2 separate regions of the Homo sapiens genome follow, and region 1 is linked to region 2. Evidence: fine-mapped expression QTL. A gene starts in region 2. The other region holds a variant in brackets. All regions are shown on one strand. Distances are between the middles of the regions.

Region 1 (8,265 bases), 51 kb before region 2:
CCTCCCACCTCAGCCTCCCTGATAGCTGGGACTACAGGTGTGTGCCACCACGCCCAATTAATTTTTGTATTTTTAGCAGAGAGAAGGTCTTGCTATGTTGCGCAGGCTAGTCTCAAACTCCTGGGCTCAAGCAATCTGCCTGCCTCAGCCTCCTAAAGTGTTGGGATTACAGGTGTGAGCCGTGGTGCCCGGCCAGACTTCATTAAGCATCTTAAGGTCAGGGACTGCATTTTATTCATCCTTGTTTCAGAACACCCAGCAATGCCTGGTACACAGTTGACCTTGAGTGCAGTAATGATTGTTTTGGAGAAAGAAGAGGAACACAGTAGCATACAAGGGCCTCTAATTTTGTGTCAGGCCCTATCTTCCCCCTCCACTCCTTAGGAAGTGTTATTTTGACCTTCTTCCCTGCCTTGAGGAAATTTTAACCTGCACTGTAAAATCTGAGTACGTGGTTCCTCCACACCTAGTGTCCTAATCTCAAGCTATCCCCTCAAACAGGTCAGGGAGGAATTTTTTGGAGAACTTCTCCCTAAAGAAACAATAGTTGTCATCTCAACAGCCGCACCCCAATTTGCACAATCTGTGTCTGTGTTCACATTCTGCCTCCATCCAGTACACTGTACTCCAACTAGAAAAACTTGCTCCTCATGCTCAGCACGGGCGTCCATACTATCCTCCTCAGCCTTTTTTCAATGTGATCATTCTCTTGCCTAAGAACCAGCCCCCTACCCTGTTTCTATCTCCAGCTTAGTTGTTCCTCATTTATTTATTTATTTATTTATTTATTTATTTATTTATTTGAGACGAACTGTCGCTCTGTCGCCCAGGCTGGAATGCAGTGGCGCGATTTCGGCTCACTGCAACCTCTGCCTCCCGGGTTCAAACAATTCTCCTGCGTCATCCTCTCGAGTAGCTGGGACTGCAGGCGTGCGCCACCACACCCAGCTAATTTTTGTATTTTTAGTAGCGACGCGGTTTCACCGTATTGGTCAGGCTGATCTCCTAACCTCAGGCGATCCACCCGCCTCGGCCTCCCAAAGTGCTAGGATTACAGGCGTGAGCCACCGCGCCCGGCCTGTTTCTCTCTTTCAAGCCCGGCTCGGGTGTCCTGCCTGCTTTCTGCACTCTATCCCTACCAGTTCCAGGCTTAGAGCCTACCTGGAGCAAGAAACGCAGTGTACATGGCGGCTTCGCATGCATACTCAGAGAACCTAAACGTGTTTTCGATATGGTAGGTCCTCTCGCTGAGTGGAACCCACATCATTTTCTACCCTGCGGTGGCAGTTGCTTTGCAGTGCTCAGCGTGATGGGAACTGGCTTTCCGGAGCGAGTGAGTGTGGGCCCACCACTGAGGACCTGGTTCAGTGAGGCCGAGGTTTCGGGCAGGGGTTGGAGCTCGGAAGCTGGCCTCGAGCGAGCGCTGCCTGAGGGTAGGCCCCGGGCCCGCCCCTCCGAGCCGGCCTGCTCCAGCTGACAGTGGTGGGCTGAGGGGCGGGCCTCAGGGCTGGCCAGGGGCGGCCTGAGGTGGCTCAGGGCTGGGGCCGGATGCGAGGCATGCCGGGAGCCCGCACTTCCTCCTCGGGGGCCTCAGAAAACCACAGGGCGCGGGGCCAGGGCGGCGGCCCCCAGGGAGTTGGCAGGATGGCAGAGGGCAAGGCAGGCGGCGCGGCCGGCCTCTTCGCCAAGCAGGTGCAGAAGAAGTTTAGCAGGGCCCAGGAGAAGGTAGGTGGCCGGGCCTCGCTGTCTGTCTGGCCCACAGGGAGCCGAGGCCGAGGCCGAGCCCGGCCGGGCAGGAGGGGCGGGCAGGGTGCTCAGGGGCCCCGAAGGGTCTGGGCTGACGAGAAGGGTCTCCCGCTCTCCCAGGGAAACGGGAGCGAGGAGTGGGCTTCCATGAAAACTGGCAGATTGGAGAGAGGTCGGAGACCGCCACCCGATCTTGGGCAAGGATAAGGGAAGCTGGGGAGACAACAGTCTCTGGGCAGAACCTTCGACAACCCTCAGGCTGACCCAGAAAAGGTGAAAGAAAGGAAGTGATGGTGGTGGCCACCTTTGTATCAAATTTTGTGCTAGCAATCCAAAATTGGTATTTTACAGATGATGAAATTGGAGGGTAATTTTCCATAGAGGGCAATTTCCCCAAAAACAGCGATGCAGCGGATGCCAGCAGGCACCCCCCACCAAAGGCTTAGAATAATCCTGCATAGTTCTCCCCCTACCTGACCCTGCCTGGCCTCTGGGTGGTGTTTCAGCTGACGTAAGCAGGAGCCCAAATCTGCTTCTTCTACCCTCCCTTTGGCGTTGGGGAGTACACCTCCCAGGGTGATGAACCACATCTGTGTTCAGAGTGTGTCCTTGGTTAGTGTCAGGTAGCCCTGCTCCAGCACTGGCACTTAGGTGGGCTGCCCATCTATTACTTGCTTGGCAATCTAAATTGTGGGGACATTCTCTACACATTTTGATGGCATTTTTGTTTCTACCTGTACAGAATATTTTCTTTGCTTCTAACCTGAGCCTCTGCTCTCCACCTACCAACCCTCTAGTAGACAAGGCGGTTTGGGAAGACATGTCAGCCAGAAGAAAGAGCGAGGGAAGAAAGACAAGAAGGACCTGAGATAGAGTTTCGGTTTTCCTTTTTTTCTCTCTCTCTTTATTAAGCCCAACCTGCCTTCTACAACGGAGAAGTTTTGGTTTTCTAAGAGCTGATGGACTTAGAAGCATTTGGATGAACAGCTCTGCTTACCAACTGAAATATCCCTATTATCTTCTAAAAGTGGAGCACTGCTTTGAGCCCTGGGAAGGCTTAAAGGCAACCAGCTCTCCCGAGTTGATTTATCAGCAGAAAACTGATGGAATGTAGATGTAGCTCCTGACTTTAAGAGACCACAATGGAAGGGAGGTTATTTTCTATCATTTGAGGTCATGTGAAAGAGAGGAGGAAAAGGGAAAGAGTTCGTGTAGCCAGACTTCGTTACTTCACTTACCCTAACTTCACCTTGATCCTAGTTTCAGCCTCTCTGAAGACTTACAAATCTGGTAGACCCGAGAGCAGGGCCTATGGGAAGGTCTAGCTCGAAACAGTGTGGGCGAGCAGGAGGTACTGGAGAGAAGGCCACACTGTGGTTGAAAAAAAAAAAAACCCTAAAAGACAAAACACTCATGAATGATAGTAATTTTAAAAAGACATACCAGCCAGGCACAGTGGCTCACTCCTGTAATCCCAGCACTTTGGGAGGCCAAGGTGGGAGGACTGCTTGAGCCCAGGAGATCAAGACTGCAGTGAGCAGTGATCACACCACACCACACTCAAGCAGAGGGAGACTCTGTCTCAAAAAATAAAAATAAATACATAAAAATAAAAGACATACAATTGATTGTATTTCACTCTTGCATCTTCTGTCTTCATCTAGCCTCTCGTCAACACTAAAACCTTGCTTTGGGCTTTCACTCCTTTGTAAGCATAGACTCCAAACCTTGGCTAAATAATGTCCTGCTCTGGGCTTCAGATCTTGCACCTGTAAAATGAGAGGGTTGATGTTCTTGATGAAACTCAATATGGTAAGAACACTAAATTGAAAAGCTGTCACATTAGACTCAGAGTCAAATACTTCCCAAAGACAGAACCAGTCTCTCAGGTTCTTCTGGCCTGAACCCTGAGGAAGTAGAGAAAGAGGAGCAAACTCAAATCTGCCATGAGGAATTCCCAGCTGATGAAGAAAACAAGATATTCTGAACCTAGACTAGACAAAAGGGTAGGCAAAGGTTGAACTTCGATAAGGTGGGAATGGCCTGGGATGCCGGAAGGGAGCTCAGCTCCGTCAGCCTGAAGCCAGTCCTTGAGTCTTGGGAAGTTATTGAGACCAAGATAAAGAGGGAGAAATTTGCACTAAAATGAAAGAATTCCTTGCAACACTTTTTGCTTTTTCTGCAAGCAGTTGGATGTAATCTTCTGAGTAATAAGTAATAGCTAATGTGTCAAATAGTGAAATGTGTCAAATATCAAGCGCCTATTATGGACCAGAGACAGGGATATAAGAAAGTGATTATCAGCGGGGTGCAGTGGCTCACGCCTGTAATCCCAGCACTTTGGGAGGCCCAGGCAGGTGGATCTCCTGAGGTCGGGAGTTCGAGACCAGCCTGACCAACATGGAGAAACCCCGTCTCTACTAAAAATACAAAATCAGCCGGGTGTGGTGGCGCATGCCTGTAATCCCAGCTACTCAGGAGGCTGAGGCAGGAGAATCGCTTGAACCTGGGAGGCGGAGGTTGCCGTGAGCCGAGATCGCGCCATTGCACTCCAACTTGTGCAACAAGAGCAAAACTCTGTCTCAAAAAAAAAAAAGACAAAGTGATTCTCTCTCCCTTTATGGAGCCAACATTCTACCGATGTCATCTCCCTTCATCTATTCAACACTTTAAGCAGGTTATTAGCATCTCTGTTTTAGAAATAAGGAAACAAGGCTCAAAAGAGATTGGTAGGTAGCAGAAATATTACTGAAACCCAGGTGTCCTGCCTCTGAATCCTAACCTCACTCAGGCTGCTGCTTTACAACGTTCCTGATAAGCCACTCTCACATCTGTGCCTCCCCCACTTCCTGCTGATCCTCTCTCAGGAACAGAGCTCAGAAGTAGAAACACTTTTTGTTCAGGCATCCTCTGAAAAGCTGGGAGTGGAGGTCTGGTGACCATTAAACACAATAGGGATGAAACATTCTTGGTCTGTTTTCCATTTCCCGCCCAAACTCAACATGGGACTGAATTTAAGCTGGCTTTAGAGTGTGTGTGTGTGTGTTTGTGTGTGTGTGTGTGTTTTTAGTATGATACATCTTCTCATTTCCAACTATAGTACTGCTTTCACCATCTGTTTGTGATTTCTCTGTGGCAAACCTCTCAGATCCCCCTGAGAAGGGGCGTTGTTTACCACTCCTTTGTTGGTCTTCTCCTCTGTTGACATCTACTCAGCTTAAATCCCAGAGGGTTAAATTCCACAAATATTTACAGAAAAACTCCTTTGTTCAGGGTACTGGGCTGGACCCAGCAGGGAATTTAGGGGTAAGAGACATTCTTGCTTTGCCAAAAGCTTAAGATCTAGTTAAAAAAAAAAAA[A/T]AAAAAGAATAATGATAATAAAATAACTGACCTGAGAGATGCAGGTCTATTCAGAGGACAAAAGGATTGGGGAGAATCGAGAGGTTTTATAGTGGAGGCTGAATTTGAAATAGGAATTATGGGAGATTAGTAGTTTTTCAGACACGTGATCAGAGAGCATTCTAGCTGAGAAGTGCCAGCATAAGCAAGGCATGGAGACTGGAGTGAGAACTACAGCTCAGCTGGAGCACAGGGAGTGGTCAGAGCAAAGGCTGGAAAAAGTATATTAGGACCTTTTAAGGAAAGCTTACTTTATCATATATCCTAAAAATAAAGATTTCCGGCCAAGCGCCATGGCTCATGCCTGTAATCCCAACACTTTGGGAGGGCGAGGTGGGTAGATCACCTGAGGTCAGGAGTTCGAGACCAGGCTGGCCAATGTGGCGAAATCCCAGGAGTTCGAGACCAGGCTGGCCAATGTGGCGAAATCCCATCTCTACCAAAAAATACAAAAATTAGCCTAGTGGTGCACACCTGTAGTCCTGGCTGCTTGGAGGCTGAGGCAGGAGAATCGCTTGAATCTGGGAGGTGGAGGTTGCAGTGAGCTGAGATTGTGCCACTGCACTCCAGCCTGGGCAATAGAGCTAGACTCTGTCTCGAAAGTAAGAAAGAAAGAGAGGGAGAAAAGGAAGGAAGGAAGGAAAGAGAAAGATTTCCTACATAACCACAAAAATTTACTGCACCTAAGAAAAAATTTTAGCAAAATTTTATAATATCAAATATCCAGGCCCTATGCAAATTACCCCAATTGAGGGAATTAACTAAAATATAATAAATGATTATGGGAGAGGCAATGGTAGGGAACTATAGCCACCAAAGATATATGTAGTAATTTTTTTTAAAGCTCTATTTCCACCCCAACCCTGATCTACAGAAAAGTTATAAATAATCAATGAACACTGGAATATTTTTCATGCAGATTCACCAAGTGTTAACGTTTTGCCACATTTACTTTTTTGCCTTGCTCTTGCTCTTTCTCCTTAAATATCTATATTCTAATTTAGCTGCCAGGCCAGATAAATTGGGACAGAATTCTCAAAGCAGGATTTTAGGGATTAGCATTATATGGGTTTTCATTAGGAAGTGATCCAAAAGTAGAATTTATTCATTGTTTCAACAAACATCTGTTTAGCATCTGTACACCCTGTTCCCTCAAGGGTCTTTCGTTGGGAAGAACACCCATGACACAGTATAAGTGCCCTAACATGTACCTGTTGCTTATGGCAACAAATTACTTTGGCTCCAGAGTACTGGGGTATGTTTCAGGGTGGTAACACCTTTTCACTTTCAGAGTTGGAGGGTGAGGAAGTTTCTCTCAGTACCCCCCAACCCCCGACCCCACACTCTCCAAGCCTTTTGGCCTTGAGCCTTTTGGGGATTGGGGAGATTGGTCTGCCCCAGTCATCCCTTACACTGACTCTAGACTGAGTTTTCTCTTTTCTGTTTTTTCTGTCCTCTCCACCTAAGAAGAACCAAATTAGGGACAAAGGAAGGGAGGGGTAGCAGAAAGGAAGTTAAGAGCTGCACTTACCACTAACAAGGTGGTTTTGCAACTTTCTGGTAGAGAACAGTGTTTTGTTAGCTGAGAAGGGTGGAGCCAGGGAGGATGGCAGACTGCACATCCAGGGCTGGGTGGCAAGTGAGGTGCAGTTAGAGACGGACAAAAACAGATATGGCCAAACCAAACAGATATGGCCAAACCAAAAATATAAGCATTTACAGGCAAGGGAGCAAAACTAAACATAATGACAGTGAGTACCTATTGAGTGCTCTTTGTAGGGCAGCTCTGAGAAAGCAATTTACATGCAAAATATCATTTAATCCTCCTGACAACTCAAGGAGATAAATATTATCTAATGGGGGAAAGGGAGTTCTGTAAACCGAGGCTCAAAAGTTTTAATGACTTGCCTGAAGACTTACAGTCAGTAAGTAGAAAGGCCAAGATAGGAGCCCATATCTGTCTAACTCCAGAATGCTTGATCTTATCCACTACAGCAAGAGCTCCAGGAATGAGACACACCCCCGGATTAAGAATGGAGATACTGGTGGCCCAGTGGCTCACGCCTATAATTCCAACACTGGGAGGCTGAGGTGGGCAGATCACCTGAGGTCAGGAATTCAAGACCAGCCTGGCCAACATGGCGAAACCCTGTCTCTACTAAAAATACAAAAATTCGCCAGGCGTGGTGGTGGGCACCTGTAATCCCAGCTACTTGGGAGGCTGAGGCAGAAGAATGGCTTGAGCCGGTGAGGCAGAGGTTGCAGTGAGCTGAGATGGCATCACTGCACTCCAGCCTGGGCGACAGAGCAAGACTTGTCTCAAAAAAAAAAAAAAAAAAGAATGGAGATATGAATCAGAGTCTCTCCACAGAACCTGCCACACTCCCCAGATCTGGGCACTCTTGCATGGCATTCAAAGCCCTTCACAATGAAACTCCAGTCTCCCTTTCTAGCTTCATTCCCCACCACTCCCCATAACAGCCATGCTGAACCAGCTAGTGAAGCTGTGTACTCCTATGATTTTCCTGATGCTGTTGTCTCTAACTGGAATCCTCTTTCTGCTGTCACCCTTTATACTCTATTTCTTTTTTCTTTTTCTTTTTCTTTTTTTCTTGAGACGGAGTCTTGCTCTTTTGCCTAGGCCGGACTGCGGTGGCGCTATCTCGGGTCACTGCAAGCTCCGCCTCCCGGGTTCATGCCATTCTCCTGCCTCAGCCTCCTGAGTAGCTGGGATTACAGGCACCCACCACCACGCCTGGCTAATTTTTTGTGTTTTTAGTAGAGACGGGGTTTCATCGTGTTAGCCAAGATGGTCTCGATCTCCTGACCTCGTGATCCACCCGCCTCTGCCTCCCAAAGTGCTGGGATTACAGGCGTGAGCCACCGCTCCCGGCCTTTTTTTTCTTTTTTAATTTAATTTAATTTAATTTTTTGTTTTGTTTTTTGAGACAGAGTTTCGCTCTGTTGCCCAGGCTGGAGTGCAATGGCGCAATCTTGGCTCACTGCAACCCTTTAACCGATTCTCCTGCGTCAGCCTCCCAAGTAGCTGGGATTGCAGGCGTGCACCACCACACCCAGCTAATTTTTTTTGTATTTAGTAGAGATGGGGTTTCACCATGT
Region 2 (8,327 bases):
CAAGGTCAGGAGTTTGAGACCAGCCTGGCCAACATGGTGAAACCCTGTCTCTACTAAAAATACAAAAGTTAGCCAGGCCTGGTGGTGTGGACCTGTAATCCCAGCTACTCCAGAGGCTAAGGCATGAGAATCACTTGAACCTGGGAGGCAGAGGTTGCAGTGAGCTGAGATGGAGCCACTGCACTCCAACCTGGACGACAGAGTGAGACTCCACCTCAAAAAATAAAATGAGGTATGTGACTACATAAAAAAATTAATAAATAATGTATCAGGCCAGGCGTGGTGGCTCATGCCTGTAATCCCAGCGCTTTGGGAGGCTGAGCCGGGTGGATCACCTGAGGTCAGGAGTTCGAGACCAGCCTGGCCAACATGGCGAAACTCTGTCTCTACTAAAAATACAAAAAATTATCCGGGCCTGATGGCAGACGCCTGTAATCCCAGCTATTTGGGAGGCTGAGGCAGAAGAATTGCTTGAACCCGGGAGGCGGAGGTTGCAGTGAGCCGATATCACGCCATTGCACTCCAGCCTGGGTGATAGAGCAAGACTCTTGTCTCCAAAAAAAAAAAAAAAAATCAAGTATCAGCAAACCTTCTAAGGTTACATTTTATTCATTTTTATTATTATTTTTTTTTGAGATGGAGTCTCACCCTGTTGCCAGACTGGAGTGCAGTGGTGTGATCTCTGCTCACTGAAACCTCCGCCTCCCAGGTTTAAGCGATTCTCCTGCCTCAGCGTCTTGAGCAGCTGGGATAACAGGCATGCGCCACCATGCTCGACTAATTTTTGTATTTTTATTAGAGTTGGGGTTTCACCATGTTGGCCAGGATGGTCTCGATCTCTCAACCTTGTGATCTGCCCGCCTCGGCCTCCCAAAGTGCTGGGATTACAGGCGTGAGCCACTGTGCCTGGCCTATTTTTATTTTTTTAATGTTTAATTTTTGTGGGTTCATAGGAGGTATATATATTTATGGGGTACATGAGTTTTTTTGTTTTTTTTTTTTTGAGACAGAGTCTTGCTCTGTTGCCCAGGCTGGAGTGCAGTGGCACAGTCTCAGCTCACTGCAAGCTCTGCCTCCCGGGTTCATGCCATTCTCCTGCCTCAGCCTCCCCAGTAGCTGGGACTACAGGTGCCTGCCACCACGCCTGCCTAATTTTTTGTATTTTTAGTAGAGACGGGGTTTCACCATGTTAGCCAGGATGGTCTTGATCTCCTGACTTTGTGATCCGCCTGCCAAAGTGCTGGGATTACAGGTGTGAGCCACCATGCCCGGCCTCATGAGATGTTTTGATATAAGCATGCAATGCATAATAAAATCATATCATGGAGAATGGAGTATCCATCCCCTTAAGCATTTATCTTTTGTGTTAAAAACAATCCAATTACACTATTTTAGTTATTTTTAAATGTACAATTAAGTTATTATTTATAGTCACCCTGTTGTGCTACCAAATAGTAGGTCTTAAGGTCTTATTCTTTTTTTTTTTTTTTTTGTACCCATTAATCATCCCCACCTCCCTCCCTAAGGTTACTTTTTTTTGGTTGAGGGGAAAGGATCTTGCTATATCTCCCAGGCTGGAGTGCAGCCTTCACCCCCAGGGCTCAAGTGATCCTCCCACCTCAGCCTCCTGACTAGCTGGGACCACAGGTGCATGCCACGACTCCTGTCTAACTTTTTTTGTATTTTGTAGAGACAGTGTTTCAACATGTTGCCCAGGCTGGTCTCAAACTCCTAGGCTTAAGTGATCTGCCCACTGTGGCCTCCCAAAGTGCTGGGATTATAGGTGTAAGGTTACTTGTTTTTTTTTTTTTTTGAGTCAGAGTCTCACTCTGTTGCCCAGGCTGGAGTGCGTTGGTGCAATCTCGGCTCACTGCAACCTCCACCTCCAGGGTGCAAAAAGGTTCTCCTGCCTCAGACTCCGAAGTAGCTGGGATTACAGGCTCCCGCCACCACACTCAGCTAATTTTTGTATTTTTAGTAGAGACGTGGTTTCGCCATGTTGGCCAGGCTGATCTCGAACTCCTGACCTCAGGTGATCTGCCTGCCTTGGCCTCCCAAAGTGCTGAGATTACAGGCGTGAGCCACTGCGCCCCACCAGTTACATTTTAAAGAGAAAAAAAAGATGCTTATTGAAAGAACATTACTAACAACTGTCGAAATTGTGAAAGTGACAGCAAATCAGTAGAGTCAGTCAGTTGAGCCAGATAGCCTCTGAGTCTGTAGTTCTTTTTTTCTTTTTTTTTTGTCGCCCAGGCTGGAGTGCAGTGGCACAATCTCGGCTCACTGCAACCTCCGCCTCCCGGGTTCAAGCGATTCTCCTGCCTCAGCCTCCCCATTAGCTCGGATTACAGGCGCCTGCCACCACGTCCAGCTAATTTTTATATTTTTAGTAGAGACAGGGTTTCACTGTGTTGGCCAGGCTGGTCTTGAACTCCTGACCTTGTGATCCACCCGCCTCGGCCTCCCAAAGTGCTGGGATTACAAGTGTGAGCCACCGCGCCTGGCTGAGTCTATAGTTCTAAACAATCTTCAACACATAATAGAAAATGTGAAAGAGACAGACCCAGGTCCAAGAACGATCTGAACTTCTCCTGGAATTCATGATCAAGGTGGACAGCTAGAAGTATGTCAATGCCAGCAATTGTCCTCCTTTGGATTTAGCCCTCTAGGATTTTAATTTCCTTTTCTCTTGGATATTCTCTTATCTAAGGACAAGCCAGGCTCACCTTTCTTTTATTAAGTTACATATGCATAGCTGGCATATCACTTTCTTTGCCTTTCTTGGTTGGATTGGCATTTTCCCATGCACATATTTACATATATTTCTCACAATATATTTATATAAAATGAATTTCATCACTTTTTTATTGTTTGTTTTCCTCCTGTATTTGTGTTTGTTTTTTTCTTTTGAGACGGAGTTTTGCTGTTGTTGCCCAGGCTGGAGTGCAATGGTGTGATCTCGCCTCACTGCAACCTCTGCCTCCCAGGTTCAAGCAATTCTCGTGCCTCAGCCTCCAGAGTAGCAGGGATTACAGGTGTGTGCCACCACGCCCAGCGGATTTTGTATTTTTAGTAGAGACAGGGTTTCACCTTGTTGGCCAGACTGGTCTCAAACTACTGACCTCAAGTGATCCACCCGCCTCCCAAAGTGCTGGGAGCCACAGTGCCCTGCCCTCTGGTTTCTTTTATAATGAACACTTTAGGAATAAAAGCAACTACTCTTGCTTTGCTTGTGACTTTGTTTTGTTTTCTCCCTTTATGCCTCTCTCCTCTGAGACCTTCCCTTTCGGTCTGTTCCCGGATTAACATGCACAATCTGATGATGCCTGTCTTTCTACAGAAAGTATTTCTGTATAAATACTGGTTTACAAACCTACAGAACGCCTAGGAGTGCGAAGTAAGCACAGAAGTCTATCACTGGGAGGGAAAGAATAATCACAAGGGTTCCAATCCTAAACGGGAAGCCAAGGTAACAAGACCTAGCGTTTATTGAGCACTTACTATGTGCCAGGCAAGGTTCTAATGCCTTACAGTACATATTTACTAACCTATTTCGTCCCAACAGTCACTCTATTCAGACAGGTATTGCCCCAGATAAGAGAAACGGAACAGAAGCAGCTTGTCCAAGATCACACAGCAGAGCTGATTCCAGTGCCTGCGCTATATACTATTACATCCTCTTAGTCACTGAATTCTTCTGATTAATTTGGGAACATTTCCTGCCACAAACGAGTGAGTCAAGAGGTAGCTAAAGCATGGCACTGATTATTCAAATTGAGGTGCTCACCATGCTTCTAGAACCATGGATATGAGATGGCTTTACAGGCATGATCACTTTCAGACCCGCATTTTAGGAATGAGGAAACAGATTTTCGAGATGTTAATTTGCCCAAAGTCACCCAGCTAGCAAGCAGAAGAGCTGGGGCTGTTTGAATCCAAAGTCCACGGCACTCCTAACCGCTGCTCAACGCTGCCCCACAAGAACGTCCAGCTGGCAAGACCCGGGTGGGGCTCGTTGCTCTCCCCGCTTCACCTCCCTGCTTCACGGCCGGGGGTGTGCTGGCTAAGTTCGCTCATCTGCCAAGCTTCAGGACACAGACCTATGTGAGCAAGCGATAAACAAATGCAAATAAATGTAACTTTCCACATTAGCTAAAAATTCAGAGAACGTCAAGCCCAGGGAAATGGGACGGATCCCAGTTAGCCCGCGGCTCCAATCTGGTCCCCCCCCAACCCCGAGCCTCGCGGCGAGAAAGGAAGCGGCTCCGGATGGAGAGTAAAGTGACAATCGGAGAAGGGCAGGCTGCCTTTCCTCCCGGGGGAGCCAAGGGGACCTGCAGAGGGCGGTTTCTCTCCGCTTTTCCTGTCCCACCCCGTCGGCCTGCCCCCCACCCCCTCCGGCCTCTGCGCCAACCCCGCGCGCCACCCGCGGCTTCCTCCGCTCGGGGTCCTCGTTCGGCCTCTGCTGGCCTCCGCGACTCCGCGGTGCCCGCCCCCGTTGAGTTCAAAAGGACGCGCGGAGCGGCGCCGGCCCTTCACCAGCAGCCCGTCCGACTGGAAAGGTGAGCACGAGGGAAGGGCGGGGGCGCCGGAGAGCCGGGTCGCCCACATTCGCCGCAGCCACCTCGGCCGTGGCAGGAACCGAAACCCGGAGCGGCCGAAGCTCAGCGCTCCGCTGGGGCAGAGGGTCGCGGCGGCTGGGAACGCCGCTCCCCGACGCACCGGCCGCCCCCAGCGCAGCGCGCTCCGCGGGGTGCTGGTAACGCGGGGGGCTCGGGGCGGGGGCGGGGACGGGGGCGGGGCCGCGGGGCGAGGACCAACCCAGCCCGTCGCGTCCACCCCGCGTTCGCAGGGGCGTCGAGGATCTCCGGGGCGCGGGGCGCGGGCTGGGGCCCAGTGAGGCTTGGCAGGCTGTGCGCGGACCGCGCCCTGGACGGCGAAAGCAGGCCCGGAGGGGGCGGCCAGTCCGGCGTCCCAGCGTCCGAGGCGAGCCAGAAGGCGGCCCACGGCCGTCGCCTCCCGGTCCCGGCCCGGCTACTGCGCTGCGCCCACTCCGCTCTGGAGCCTGGGCGCGGGTCCTGACCTTCCCGGCCCTCTCCTGACACCTGGTGGATGGCGTCACCAGAACTCCTAGCTGTGGAACCCTAGGGTACCTGTTACCGCGCTTTGGCGAAACTGGGTTCGCTGCTGATTTGCGAACCTTTGCCTGACTTTCTCAGGCCTTGAGAGATCTAAGTAAATTTGGTGGCCCATTGAAAGGACCTGGAGAGAGCGTATGAAGGTAACACCCCGTCAAACTGCATGCGGCCTCAGACCTGCTCCTGTGGAGAGCTGTTGGTACCTGGAGCCTGAGGAGATATTCAGGGAAACCAGAAGAGGACAAGAGAAAAAGGGGAAGGGACTTGGGAGAACCTGGCACCAGAGGCTTTCCTGGGACTTCCAGGACTCAAAGCCATAGGGGCCCACCCGCTACATTCCTGTCTTTGCCCCTCTTCCTACAGATCTGCCTCTTCTCCAAGAAACTCAACCACTAGTGACAATGACCAGCCTCCTGACTACTCCTTCTCCAAGAGGTAGGTGAAGGCCTTTCCTAATCCCAGTGAGAAAGAATTGTTCAACATCCCCTTCCCCAGACCAGTCCTGGAAGCCTCAGCCCAGGTGGGAAGACTCCCACCTCTCTCTGCCTGCCTCACACAGGAAGGGCCTGGGAGGAAGCAGGAACTAGAGTGTGCCCCTTAGTACGGTTTTAATCTGAAGTCACATGGACATGGTGACTTCACAAATCTTTGTAACCTCGGTTTATCAAATAATTTTATGTCGGTAATCCCAGGACTTTGGGAGACTGAGACAGGAGGATCTCTTGAGGCTAGGTGTTTGAGACCTGCCTGGGGAACATAGTGAGACCCCATTGCTAATTCAAAAGAAAGAAAGAGGCCGGGCGTGGTGGCTCATGCTTGTAATGCCAGCAGTTTGGGAGGTCGAGGTGGGCGGATCATCTGAGGTCAGGAGTTTGAGACCAGCCTGGCCAACATGGTGAAACTCCATCTCTACTAAAAATACAAAAAAATTAGCCAGGCGTGGTGGTGCACGCCTGTAATCCCAACTACTCAGGAGGCTGAGGCATGGGAATCGCTTGAACCTGGGAAGCACAGGTGAGCCGAGATCGTGCCATTGCACTCCAGCCTGGGCAACAAAGTGAGACCGGTCTCAAAAAATAGGAAGGGAGGGAGGAAAGGAAAGGAAGGAAGGAAGGAAGGAAGGAAGATTATTGTATAAGCCTAAAGGAAGGGCTTTACATTCATCTGTCTAATAATTTATAGCTATGGCAAAGAATGTAGCAGAAACCCTTGTAATTAAATGTGGAAAAGGAATCTTCAAAGATAACAGGGAAATCATTTTTTAAAAACCTGCTAAAGATAGTATTGCTAACCTCTAAGCTCCGGTTTCATCATTCACAAAATAGGGAAAATAGTACCTATCTTATGATTTATGAAGATTAAATGAGACAACCCATATAAAACACCTAGAAGAGTGTGTAGTATCTCGTAAGCACTCAGTCACGTTGGTTATTAGCACTGAGTACTTGTTAGAAACCCATCTTTCCCTTGAAAGTGATTTTGCTGGCTTTCTCATTCCACTCCTCTGGTGATACAGACCCAGCATCAAAACCCCATTGTTCCCTGAAGGTGTGCGGAGGCCGGGCACTACTGCTCAGCACTCTGAGAATGGATGCCCACCTTTTAGTTCATCATCAGGCTGGGCCGGACAAACTATCAGTTATTTATTGACTGTTTTCAGCATGTGCTAGTTAGGGAGAGAGAGGAACAAACCCTTGGTTGGTCTATACACCTTTGTCTTCCTATACACAGTCACATTTGTCATTAGGACAGGCATTCTCTGCTTTTACTGATGTGGAAACAGGTGAGTGACACCACCAGTGGAAGTCTAAGACAGTGTCCTCTGTGACTGGTAATGCACACAATTCAGACTTTTAGTTGTCTGGTGAGAAGAGATAAAAGAGAGAAATGGCCAGGTATGGTGGCTCACGCCTGTAATTCCAGCACTCTGGGAGGTTGAGGCAGGCAGACTGAGCTCAGGAGTTCGAGATCAGCCTGGGCAACATGGCGAAACCCCATCTCTACAAAAAAATTTAAAAATTAGCCGGGCTTGGTGGTAGACACCTGTGGTTCCAGCTACTCCAAAGGCTTAGGTGGGAGGATCCCTTGAGCCCAGGAGATGGAGGTTGCAATGAGCCGAGATCATGCCACTGCACTCCGGCCTAGGTGACAGAGCAAGACCCTGTCTTAAAAAAAAAAAAAAAGAGTTAGGGGGACACGGAGTGGGGGGGGGGAATAGGTCAGCAAAGGCTTCATGGGTGGGTGAGGAAGGGGATCTGAGTCTTGCCCTTGAAAGACGGACAAGGTTCATACAGGCAAAGGGGCGCAGCAGGTATCTTAGAGAAACGTAGAATACCTTTTTCGTGTGTACCTGCTCTAGATAAAGGTAGAATACCTCATACCATGTGTGAAGCTACAGAGACGATTTACCCTGGAGGATGTTCAGGAAGCGGGTGGGCAGAGGACCTCCAGAATAATCCTGCCCACAAGGGAAAAAAGGTGATACCTTGGCAGCTAGCTGAGGGATTAGAACCTTGGCAAGGGGGAGCTGTTTACATTTTTTAAATTTTATTATTATTATTTTTGAGACCAAGTCTTGCTGTGTCACCCAGGCTGGAGTACAGTGGCTTAATTTCGGTTCACTGCAACCTCCGCCCCCTGGGTTCAAGCAATTCTCCCACCTTAGTCTCCCTAGTAGCTGGAATTACAGGCGTGCGCTACCACGCCTGGCTAATTTGTATACTTTTAGTGGAGACAGGGTTTCGCCATGTTGGCCAGGCTGGTCTCAAACTCCTGGCCTCAAGTGATCTGCCCTTCTCGGCCTCCCAAAGTGCTGGGATTACAGGCTCATGCCATTTTTTCTTTTTTAAAATTTATGGTAAAATAAACATAGTACAGGTATTACCATTTTAGCCATTTTTTCGCAGACAATTCAGTGGTAGAGTAGTCCCCGCTTATCCACAGGGGATTCATTCCAAAAACCCCAGTGGATGCCTGAAATCTCAGATAGTACTGAACCCCATCTATACTGTGTTTTTTCCTGTACATACATACTTATGATAAAGCTTAACTTGTAAATTAGGCACAGTAAGAGATTAACAATAATAATAAAATAGAACAACTATAACAATATACTGTAATAAGAGTTATGTGAAAATGGTCTCTCTCACTTAAAATGTCTTATTTACTATAGATCTTAGAAACCTCAGT

What was found.
Region 1: its variant is fine-mapped to the expression of SMAGP in whole blood (INTERVAL, PIP above 0.99).

What each region holds. Positions count from the first base shown.
Region 1 is chr12:51,317,482-51,325,746 of GRCh38, reverse strand. It overlaps BIN2 (bridging integrator 2), which reads left to right and starts at 1,573. Exons shown (of 13, transcript NM_016293.4): 1 at 1,573-1,725. The coding sequence starts at 1,645. It overlaps LOC105369767 (a long non-coding RNA gene), which reads left to right and starts at 1,739. Exons shown (of 2, transcript XR_944957.3): 1 at 1,739-2,019; 2 at 2,544-3,379. RefSeq lists silencers at 1,338-1,827, 4,808-5,102 and enhancers at 1,858-2,047, 6,353-6,522, 6,803-6,862. The variant A/T (reference allele first, on the strand shown) is at 5,107.
Region 2 is chr12:51,266,491-51,274,817 of GRCh38, reverse strand. SMAGP (small cell adhesion glycoprotein) reads left to right here and starts at 4,403. Exons shown (of 4, transcript NM_001031628.2): 1 at 4,403-4,562; 2 at 5,502-5,573. The coding sequence starts at 5,540. RefSeq lists silencers at 4,345-4,424, 4,465-5,134 and an enhancer at 4,229-4,729.